Linked DNA regions of Homo sapiens: region 2 is linked to region 1. Evidence: fine-mapped expression QTL. A gene starts in region 1. The other region holds a variant in brackets. All regions are shown on one strand. Distances are from middle to middle. Region 1 holds the start of MAPK3 (mitogen-activated protein kinase 3). Region 2 has its middle 10 kb from the start of CD2BP2.

The links. PIP is the estimated chance that this variant, and not a neighbour inherited with it, causes the effect. A credible set is the group of variants that fine-mapping cannot tell apart.
Region 2: its variant is the best candidate, but not a certain one, in a credible set for the expression of MAPK3 in whole blood (INTERVAL, PIP 0.80).

What each region holds. Positions count from the first base shown.
Region 1 is chr16:30,120,274-30,125,642 of GRCh38, forward strand. MAPK3 (mitogen-activated protein kinase 3) reads right to left here and starts at 2,947. Exons shown (of 9, transcript NM_002746.3): 1 at 2,767-2,947; 2 at 1,551-1,733. The coding sequence starts at 2,936. RefSeq lists a silencer at 2,939-3,308.
Region 2 is chr16:30,342,355-30,347,723 of GRCh38, forward strand. It overlaps the pseudogene LOC100421031. Among named protein-coding and RNA genes, the nearest start is that of CD2BP2, 10 kb to the right of the region's middle. RefSeq lists an enhancer at 308-809. The variant A/G (reference allele first, on the strand shown) is at 2,322.

The DNA.
Region 1 (5,369 bases):
GACGCAGTGACTTGCTTCAGATCACACAGCGAGCTGGGGGTGAGCACGGAGATTTCCTGTCCACAGTTTGTGGTGGGGGTTGCAGACACCTCAGTACAAATCCCCACTCTTGGGTGGAGGGCTGGGACTGAGAGTGGGTGGGTGGGGCAGGGAAGAAGTGACAGGTGTCATAAGTTGCTAAGGAGAGCCAGACAGGAAGTGGACAGCAAACTAGGAAAGCAGTATTGGGGGAGGACAGCCAAGGCTAGGCTGTCCCTCCCTGGGCAAGGTGCAAGTCCACAGGTGATTAGGGTGTGGCTCTGAGTGAGAAGTCCTAAGAAGAAGGACAAGTTCCCATCTGGGGGAGGAGAGGAGGAGACAGCAACAGAAACACTTGATTTTAGGTTTTCTGAGCCTTAGCTTCCTCATCTTTTTTTTTTTTTTTTTTTTTGACAGGGTCACGCTCTGTCCCCCAGGCTAGAGTGCAGTAGCACAATCATAGCTCACTGCAGCCTCGAACTCCTAAGCTCAAGCCATCCTCCTGCCTCAGCCTCCCAAGTAGCTGGGACTATAGTCGTGTACCACCAAACCTGGATAATTTTTAAATTTTTTGTAGAGGTGGGGTCTCACTATGCTGCCCAGGCTGGTCTTGAACTCCTGGCCTCCAGTGATCCTCTGGTCTTAGCCTCCCAAAGTGTTGGGACTACAGATGTGAGCCATTGCACTCCACCCCTCATCTTTGAAATGAAGCTGAAAAGCCCATCTCATAGGGTAGTTGGGAGGTGTAATAGAAAAAAAAAAGCATTGGGCATGTATAGTACCTGACACACAGCAGGCCCTCAAGAAAGGCAGTTTTTTGTTTTTGTTTAGTTTTGAGACAGAGTCTCGCTCTGTCACCCAGGCTGGAGTGCAGTGGCACGATCTTGGCTCACTGCAACCTCCAGCTCCTGGGTTCAAGCGATTCTCCTACCTCTGCCTCCCAAGTAGCTGGGATTACAGGCTTGCACCACCATGCCCCGCTAATTTTTTTGTATTTTTAGTAGAGATGGGGTTTAACCATGTTGGCCAGGCTGGTCTCCAACTACTGACCTCAGGTAATCTCCCACCTCAGCCTCCCAAAGTGCTGGGATTACAGGCGTGAGCCACCACGCCCAGCTGACAGTTTTCTTTCTCCCTGTCTCCCTTCCGGTCTGGGCAAGGAGGAAAGAGAGGAAAGAATCATCCATTCCTTAGCAAGAAGTGACTGTGGGCAGAGGCCAGGTCATGTCTCAGAACTGCCGACGTCAGAAGACACCACTCCCATAGAGACCATCCTGCCTAGCCCTTCCCCCTGGGGCACAGAGCAGAGAACCCACTTGCTCGAGGCCATACTGCCTGGGCCGCTGCAGGCCTGGGTTCATCAGAGGTCTCCAAGTCCTGTTACACTGTGGCTTCCCCTCTGCAGGAAAGTTTATTTTACTGGGTTTGTTTTGGAGGGTGGTGGGTAAGATGGAAACAGAAACCAAGCAACGGGTCCCCAGCCCAGCTGCGAGGCCGTGCCTGACCAGCCGACTGGCCAAGGTGAAGGATACACATCTCTCATGGCTTCCAGGGTGGACGCCCGCAGAATGTCTCGGATGCCGATGACATTCTCATGGCGGAAGCGCAGCAGGATCTGGATCTCCCGGAGCGTGCGCTGGCAGTAGGTCTGATGTTCGAAGGGGCTGATCTTCTTGATGGCCACGCGAGTCTTGCGCACGTGGTCATAGGCCGAGCTGAGGGGACCGGAGAGAGGCTGCTGCTGTGGCCTTACAAAGGGGGAGTCCGGGCCTGGTGGCCCCACCCAGGCCTTGGCAGGGAGGGGAGAGAGCAGGAGCTGGCTCTGGTCAAATCATAAACAATGCTGGTTCCTTCCTGCTGTGGAGGCCTGGGATCTCCAGAGAGAAAGCTGGGGACCAGCCAGGCGGCCCTTCGGTGACTTTACAAACAGAGGAAGAGACTGACCGCTCACTGACTTCCCCTCTCCTCAATCCCCTTCCATTCTACTGGCCCTGAACCCTTCGCCCCCATTCCCAGGAAAGGCTCCTTAACCCAAGACAGGTCCGGGGGTGCAGATGCTGGGGACACACCATGGGGCAAATACTGGGAAGGTGGCAGCCAGGGGAGGGGCAGGAGAGAATGGACAGGGCAGGGGAGGGTCCCAGGGTGAGGGATCCGGGCAGCGGGGCTGTCCCAGAGGGATAGAGGCCCAGAGCACACGGTGGGGCCGGGGGCACTCACAGACCCCTCCCAAAACATGCAGGTGGCACTCCTGGCCGCCTCATCTCTCTCTGGGCCCCTGGGGTGGTGGGGCCAAAGCCCTGCCCCACCCTGATCTCGGCTCTTCTCCCCCAGGCTCCCTGGCACTGCCTCACAGGGGGAATCCAAGACACCCTTTCCCCCAAAACGGGCCCTCCACTGCCTCTTCACTAAGGATGTCGCCTCCCCGAGAGTACTCATCCTCTGGGCCTCGCCCCGTGTCACTAGGGTCCCCGCGGGCCCCCACATGCACTCGGATGCCCCTCCCATCATTACAGAAGGGTGGACTCAAAGCCTCCAAGCCTGCTCCCCTGAGGACGTAGGCAGCGCCCCCTCCCCCAGAAAGCACTCAGGGGCCCCCTCCCTGGGACGCTCCCGATCATCCCGAGTCTCCTGCCTCCTCGGGACGCTCCGCGTCTCCACGTCCCGGAAAGCGCTCGGCGCCTCCTCCTCCTCTCCCGCGAAGCCCCCTCCCCTGAGGGCACCCCCTCCCCCGGAACGCCCCCTCACCTGACCATGCCGTACGCGCCCTCGCCGATGTACTGCAACTGCGTGTAGCGCGGGCCCACGTCGAACGGCTGCCCCTTCACCATCTCCACCTCCCCCGGGACCCCCGGGCCGACCCCCTCGGTTCTACGGGGCTCCCCGCCCCCGCCCCCCTGAGCCGCCGCCGCCGCCATCTCCACTCCTCCCCTCCCACCGCCCTCCTCCCCACGGCGGCCCCGCCCGAGGCCCCGCCCCTTCCCGCCTGCCTGTCACCCGCAGGGCCGCGCGCGCCAGGCCCCGCCCTTGCCCCGGCCCCGCGTGGGCCTGGAGCTGTCACGTGACCCGCCCCGCGCGCGCCCGCCCTTCTTGCCCCAGGTTCGGGGGCCATGGGTCCCTGCGGGCTCCGCGGCCTCCAGGTCACCGGGAGGTTCGGCAGCGCCGCCTCGGAGACTGTCCTCACCCTCCCCTCGATGGCGAAGCGGCCAGGGCGTGACCTACCAGAGCCACCCAGCCAATGTATGCGGCAGCCCACCAGAACCTGGGCCCGGGATCACCCTAGGTTAAAAATAATGTTCTAATAAATGGATCAAATTTTACAGATGGAGAATCTGAGAGTTAGGTTTACTAACTTGGGTAAGGTCACTAGTAGTGACAGCTGAGACTCAAAATGGTGTCTTCTGACACAGAGACTCTTTCTAATTCCATGCCTCTCAGAGTCCTAGACTGTTTTTATTTTATTATAGAGACAGGGTCTCTCTCTGTCGTCCAGGCTGGAGTGTAGTGGTGCAATAATTGCTCACTGCAGCCTCAACCTCCCTGGGGTCAAGTGATCCTCCCACCTCAGCCTCCCAAAGAGCTGGGACTACGAGTGCGCGCCACCACGCCCTGCTAATTAAAAAAAAAAATTGGGGGGCTGGGCACGGTGGCTCACGCCTGTAATCCCAGCACTTTGGGAGGCCGAGGTGGGCAGATCACCTGAGTTTGAGACCAGCCTGACCAACATGGTGAAACCCCGTCTCTACTAAAAATACAAAAATTAGCTGGGCATGGTGGCACGTGCCTGTAATCCAAGCTACTTGGGAGACTGAGGCAGGAGAATCGCTTGAACCCGAGAGGAGGAGGTTGCAGTGAGCTGAGATTGCACCACTTCACTCCAGCCTGGGCGACAGAGCAACACTCCGTCTCAAAAACAAAAAACAAAAAGAAGAAGAGAAAAAGTAGGGTTGCAGAAGGTAGGGACTGAAGAAAGGCATGAAGGAGAAGGATCGGGGTGAGCTGAGGCATAAAGGCAGAAGCATAACTTGTCCAGCATGGCTGCAGTAAAAAAATGATGAGGTTTCAGCCTGGAGAGGTAGGTTGGGGCCAGATTAGGAAGGCTCTGGATTCTGGCAAGGAGTTTGGATGTTACTCAGTAAGCAGTAAAAACCCTAGAGGGACTTTTGCCAGATCATTTTGCAACTGCGGGAGAATATAGTGACTCAGAGAAAACACTATGGAGTTCAGCATGGAGCCAGGTTTGCTGAGTGGGAGTGAGTTTCCCAGCATAGGAAAGGCTGGTGTATCAGAGCTGCAAGCTGCCACCTCCTGCTGCTGGAAGCTCAGTTAGAGTGTGACTGAGATTCCCCTCTAGTGACTGAGGTTGGCATTTCCTTGGAGGACTGGACTGGGATTTGTTCTGGTTCATAGACGCATATTCAACTAATGTAGACTTACCATCTCTTCTGTGCCAGGCACTTTTGGTTTTTTTTTGTTTGTTTGTTTGTTTGTTTTTTTGAGACGGAGTCTTGCTCTATCACCCAGGCAGGAGTGCAAGCTCACTGCAACCCCTACCTCCTGGGTTCAAGTCATTCTCCCACCTCAGCCTCCCAAGTAGCTAGGATTACAGGCGCCAGCCACCACGCCCGGCTAATTTTTGTATTTTTAGTAGAGACGAGGTTTCACCATGTTGGCCAGGCTGGTCTCAAACTCTTGACCTCAGGTGATCCACCCACATTGGCCTCCCAGAGTGCTGAGATTACGGCACCTGGCTTGCCAGGCACTTTTATGTACACTACCTCCTGTAATCCTCACAGCAGCCATATGAAGTAGATACTATTAACATTTAACTGGAAAATGATGCTGGCTGGTCGTGGTGGCTCACCTCTGTGATTCCAGCACTTTGGGAGGCTGAGGCAGGCTGATTGCTTGACCCCAGCAGCTGGAGACCAGCCTGGGCAACATAGTGAGATCCCATCTCTACCAAAAATACAAAAATGAGCTGGGTGTGGTGGCATGCGTCCGTAATCCCAGCTACTTGGGAGGCTGAGGCAGGAGGATCAGTTGAGCCCAGGATGTTGAGGTTGCAGTGAGCTCTGATGGTGCCACTGCACTCCAGCCTGGGTGACAGAGTGAGAGACCCTGCCCCCACCCCCACCCCCCCAAAAAAAGGGACAGAGGGAAAACGATGTGGAAGCTTACGCTCTGTCACCCAGGCTGGAGTGCAGTGGCGCGATCTCAGCTCACTGCAAGCTCCGCCTCCCAGGTTCACGCCATTCTCCTGCCTCAGCCTCCTGAGTAGCTGGGACTGCAGACACCCGCCACCATGCCTGGCTAATTTTTTGTATTTTTAGTAGAGACGGGGTTTCACC
Region 2 (5,369 bases), 220 kb after region 1:
CCACACCCAGCTGATTTTTACATTTTCAGTAAAGATGGGGTTTTGCCATGTTGGTCAGGCTGGTCTCAAACTCCTGACCTCAGGCGATCTGCCCACCTTGCTTCCGAAAGTGCTGGGATTACAGGCGTGAGCCACTGTTTCTGACCTCTGAACTGTTTTTGATTAATGGCTCTTAACTTTAAAAATGACAATCAAAGCAGTTTGAAATGAGCCTCGAGGAAGTGGGTAAAGGGGCTGCCACTCTGCTTAATTTTCTCCACACTGGGGTCTCATTTCCTCCTTGCCAGAGGGCTTGGAGAGTGAGACTTCCAAAGCAGCTCCAGTTTCCACAGGACCCACTAGGTGGGATACCTGTGAGTGGGAAGGGAGGTTTCAAGCCCTTCCCGAGAGACAAGAGCCCCACTGCACTCAGCCTGCCTTCCCCACAGGGCCCTCCTCCGCCCACCTGCCCTCCCCAAGGTCTCTCCAGACTTCCTGTGACCACTCTGTGACAAGGGCAACACAAAAGTCAAAAACCCATCAACACAGGCGGCACGGGCCGAGAGGGAGTTGCTTCTGGGTGGGAAAGAAAGTCCCCGAGTGGTGCGGAAAGGAGAGGAGCAGGCGAGTACCCTGTGGACGCGCGTCCAGCTGCGCAGGGGCCCCCACGCACCCGTTTCCCGTGGGTCTGTTTCCCATGAGCCAGTACCTGTGGGGTCTCGTGCGGCCAGGTTTCTGCCCTATCCGTCCAAGACACAGGATGAAGCTCATGCCTCACTCGGGGTCTCCTTCTCTCTCCCTGCAGTGCACCCACTCTGGACGGGCCCGGTCTCCGTGCCAGGGGGCACCCGGCAGTCTCCTATCAACATCCAGTGGAGGGACAGCGTCTATGACCCCTGGCTGAAGCCACTCAGGGTCTCCTATGACGTGGCATCCTGCCTGTACATCTGGAACACTGGCTACCTCTTCCAGGTGGAATTTGACGATGCCACCAAGGCATCAGGTGAGTGCCAGCTGGGGCTCGAGGACTTTCTCCTCTCCGCTCCCTGTTCTGGGAGCAGGGTCAGGGGCTTCGCGGAGAAGGCGGAGGAGAGCTGGAAGGTGCTGCTTTCCTTGTGCTGCTGGCGCGCCACTGCACTTCAGCCTGGGAGACAGAGCGAGACTCCGTCTCAAAAAAAAAAAAAAAAAAAAGAAGAAATAGAAAACTTGAATAGGCCGGGCACAGGGGCTCACACCTGTAATCCCGGCACTTTGTGGTTTTTTTTTTTTTCTCTCTCTCTTTTTGTTTTGTTTTGTTTGAGATGGAGTTTCGCTCTTGTTACCCAGGCTGAAGTACAATTGTGCAATCTCGGCTCACTGCAGCCTCTGCCTCCCAGGTTCAAGCGATTTTCTTGCCTCAGCCTCCCAAGTAGTGGGGATTGCAGGCGCCCACCGCCGCGCCTGGCTAATTTTTTGTATTTTTAGTAGAGACAGGGTTTCACCATGTTGGACAGGCTGGTCTTGAACTCCTGACCTCAGGTGAACCATCCACCTCGGCCTCCCAAAGTGCTAATCCCAGGAGGCCGAGGCAGGTGGATCACATGAGGCCAGCAGTAGTGCAAGACCAACCTGGAAAACAGGACAAGACCCCGTCTCTAGTAAAATTATAAAAATTAGCTGGGTGTGGTGATGTGCGCCTGTAGTCCCAGCTACTGGGTGTGGAGGCTGCAGTGAGCCAAGTTCACACCGGTGCACTCCAGCCTGGGCAACAGAGTGAAATTCTGTCTCAAAAAAAAAAAAAAAAAAGAGAAAAGAAAAGAAAACTTGAATAGCCTTAAATATAATTAATAAGGCTGGGTGCGGTGGCTCACACCTGTAATCCCAGCACTTTGGGAGGCCAAGGCGGGCAGATCACGAGGTCAGGAGTTTCAGACCAGCCTGACCAACATGATGAAACCCCATCTCTACTAAAAATACAAAAATTAGCCAGGCATGGTGTCCGGCACCTGTAATCCCAGCTACTCAGGAGGCTGAGGCGGGAGAATCCCTTGAATCTGGGAGGCGGAGGTTGCAGTAAGCCAAGATCGCCCATTGCACACCAGCCTGGGCAACAAGAGCAAAACTCTGTCTCAAAAAACAAAAAACAAACAAAACAAAACAAGACAAAACACTTTCCTACAAGATTAATTTGAGGTCGGTGCCTAAAGTAAAAGCTTTATCTTTGGAACTAGCACAGCTCTCTAGGCATCAAGAGCAAGGTTTTTCTTTTTCACTCCCAGAAGTGCTCTTTTTAATTTTTTTTTTTTTTTGAAACAGTCTCGCTCTGTTGCCCAGGCTGGAGTGCAGTGACCCAATCTCGACTC[A/G]CTGCAACCTCTGCCTCCCGGGTTCAAGTGATTCTCCTGTCTCAGCCTCCCCAGTAGCTGGGATTACAGGCATAAGCCACCATACCCAGCTAAGTTTTGTATTTTTAGTAAAGACAGGGTTTCACCATGTTGTTCAGGCTGGTCTCGAACTCCTGACCTCAGGTGATCTGCCCATCTAGGCCTCCCAAAGTGTTGGGATTACAGGCGTGAGCCACCGTGCTTGGCTCTTTTTTTAATTTTTAAAATGCATTTTATTTTGTTTTGTTTTATTTTATTTTATTTATTTAGAGACAAAGTCTTGGTCTGTCACCCAGAATGGAGTGCAGTGGCACAATCATAGCTCACTGCAGCCTCAAACTCCTAGGGTCAAGGGATCCTCCTGCCTCAGCCTCTGGAGTAGCTGGAACTACAGGCTCGAGCCACCATGCCTGGCTAATTTTTTAAATTTTCGTAGAGACAGGGTCTTGCTATGTTGCCTAGGCTGGTCTCCAACTCCTGGACTCAACTGAGCCTCCTGCCTCACCCTCCCAAAATGCTGGAATTACAGGCATGAGCCACTATACCTGGCTCAAAGATTTCTTAAATAGGACACAAAAAGCACAAATGATTTTTTAATCAACAAATTAAGCCAGGTGCGGCGACTCACGCCTGTAATCCCAGCACTTTGGGAGACTGAAGCGGGCCAATCACTTGAGGTCAGGAGTTCGAGACCAGCCTGGCCAACATGGTGGTCTACTAAAAATACAAAAATTAGCTGGGTGTGGCAGCCTGTAGTCCCAGCTACTCAGGAGGCTGAGGCACAAGAATTCCTTGAACCCAGATGGCAGAGGTTGCAGTGAGCCGAGATTGCGCCACTGCACTCCAGCCTAGACCACATAGTGGGACTCTGTCTCAAAAAAAAAAAAAAAAAAAAAAAAAAATGATCAGCCTGGCCAACATGGTGAAACCCCATCTCCCCCATCTCTACTAAAAATACAAAAATTAGCCAGGCATGGTGGTGTGCGCCTCTAACGCCAGCTACTTGGGAAGCTGAGGCAGGAGAATTGCTTGAACCCAGGAGGCGGAGGTTGCACTGAGGTGAGATTGCACCACTGCACCCCAGCCTAGGAGACAGAGCAAGATTCTGTCTCAAAGAAAAGTCAGCAAATTAAATTTTAACCAGATTTAAAACTTTTGTTCTTCAAGATGATGACAGAAAAAAAAAAAAAGACAAGTCATGGATCAAGAAAATATTCACAAAACAGAATCTGACAAAGGACTCATTATCTGGAATATCTAATGATCAAGGTCTCTTACAAGTCAATCAGAAGACAAACAATTCAGTTTTTAAAACAGGCAAAACATATGAGCAAACACTCGACCAAAAATTTTGACAGGACTTTAGAGTCCCACAGACCTCGGTTAAAATCCTGGCTTTACCACCCTCAGGCTATGTGATGTTGAATGTCACCTCTCTGAGCCTCATTTTTCTCATCAGCAAAGTGGGAGAGATACGTAACTAAATAGGTAGTCAAGGAGATTAAACATAATATTCTGAACTTATTTAGGTCCCTAATAAATGCCAGACACCCTCTTCTTCCCCTGTCAAATAGAGGATGTATATATGTATACATACAAATATATATATATATATACACTTTTTGTGTGTGTAGAGATGGAGTCTGGCTATATTGCCCAGCTGGTCTCAAACTCCTTGGCTCAAGCCATCTGCCCACCTCAGCTGAGATTACATGCCTGGCAGAGAACGGGCTTAGTGTGTAAGCCGGGGAAGGCTGGGCCAGGTAAGAGGTCTCAATGTCTGAGGCCAGAGGGCAAATGCCCACATTGTATCCAAAGGAATGTGAAGTGTTCAAGACAGAAAAATGTGTCCCAAAGAGTGCACTGGAGCTACAAGGTCTGAAGCCACCAAGAGCTGCAAGGCAGCTGTATGGGGAGGGAATAGGGATGGGTGGGGTATCAGGAAAGTAAGAGCAAGTACGATGGCATCAGAATGGAGAAACTGGGCTGGGCACGGCAGCTCATGCCTGTAATCCCAACACTTTGGGAGACCCAGGCAGGAGGATCATTTGAGGCCAGGAGTTTGAGATCAGCCTGGTCAACATAGTGAGACCCCACGTCTATAAAAAATAAAAATAAAGGGGCTGAAGTGGGAGGATCACTTGAGCTCAGGAGGTCCAGCCTGCAGTGAGCTATGATCGCACCACTGCACTCCAGCCTGGGCGACACAGCAAGACGCTGTCTCTAAAACTAAATGGCAGAGCGCGGTGGCTCACAACTGTAATCCCAGCACTTTGGGAGGCCAAGGCAGGTGGATCACTTGAGGTCAGGAGCTCAAGACCACCCTGGCCAACATGGCAAAACCCCATCTCTACTAAAACTACAAAAATCTGCTGGGCGTGGTGGCGGGCGCCTGTAATCCCAGTTACTCAGGAGGCTGAAGAAGGAGAATTGCTTGAACCCGGGAGGCGGAGGTTGCAGTGAGCCGAGATCACGCCACTGCACTCCAGCCTGGGCAACAAGAGCGAAACTCAGTCTCAATAAATAAATAAATAAATAAATAAATAAATAAATAAATACAAATAAATAAGAAGAGGGAAACCAGAGGCTGCCAGCGCCTGCTGCTGACTTTTACAGGCAGGTCATGTGCCACGTCTGCATGGGCAGCTGGGAAGCTGGCATCTTACATAAAGGGACAGAGAAGCCTCCTGGGGAACAGGGGCCTAGCGGGGACAGGATTGCAGCCACCTGCAGCGGCCAACTGGAGATGGCAGCGGTGGCCCACCGCAGGGGGTGTAGGTGGTCAGGGGCCACTGAACCCTCCCCTGTGGAGCATACCCCCGAGGGTGCCCGGCAGCTGGGGACTGGGCTCCACAGGGAGTTCAGAGTGGCTGCTGACTCCACGGAGCACTGTTGTTACTTGGGCCCCACACAAAACATCTACCTTGAAATCCATCCTTGGGAGAAACTCCTCTCAGGTCTTGGCATCAGGAGGAGCTGGGCATGTCCAGGTCTCCGGCTTGGTTCCTGCCGGGAGCAGAACGGAAGGCA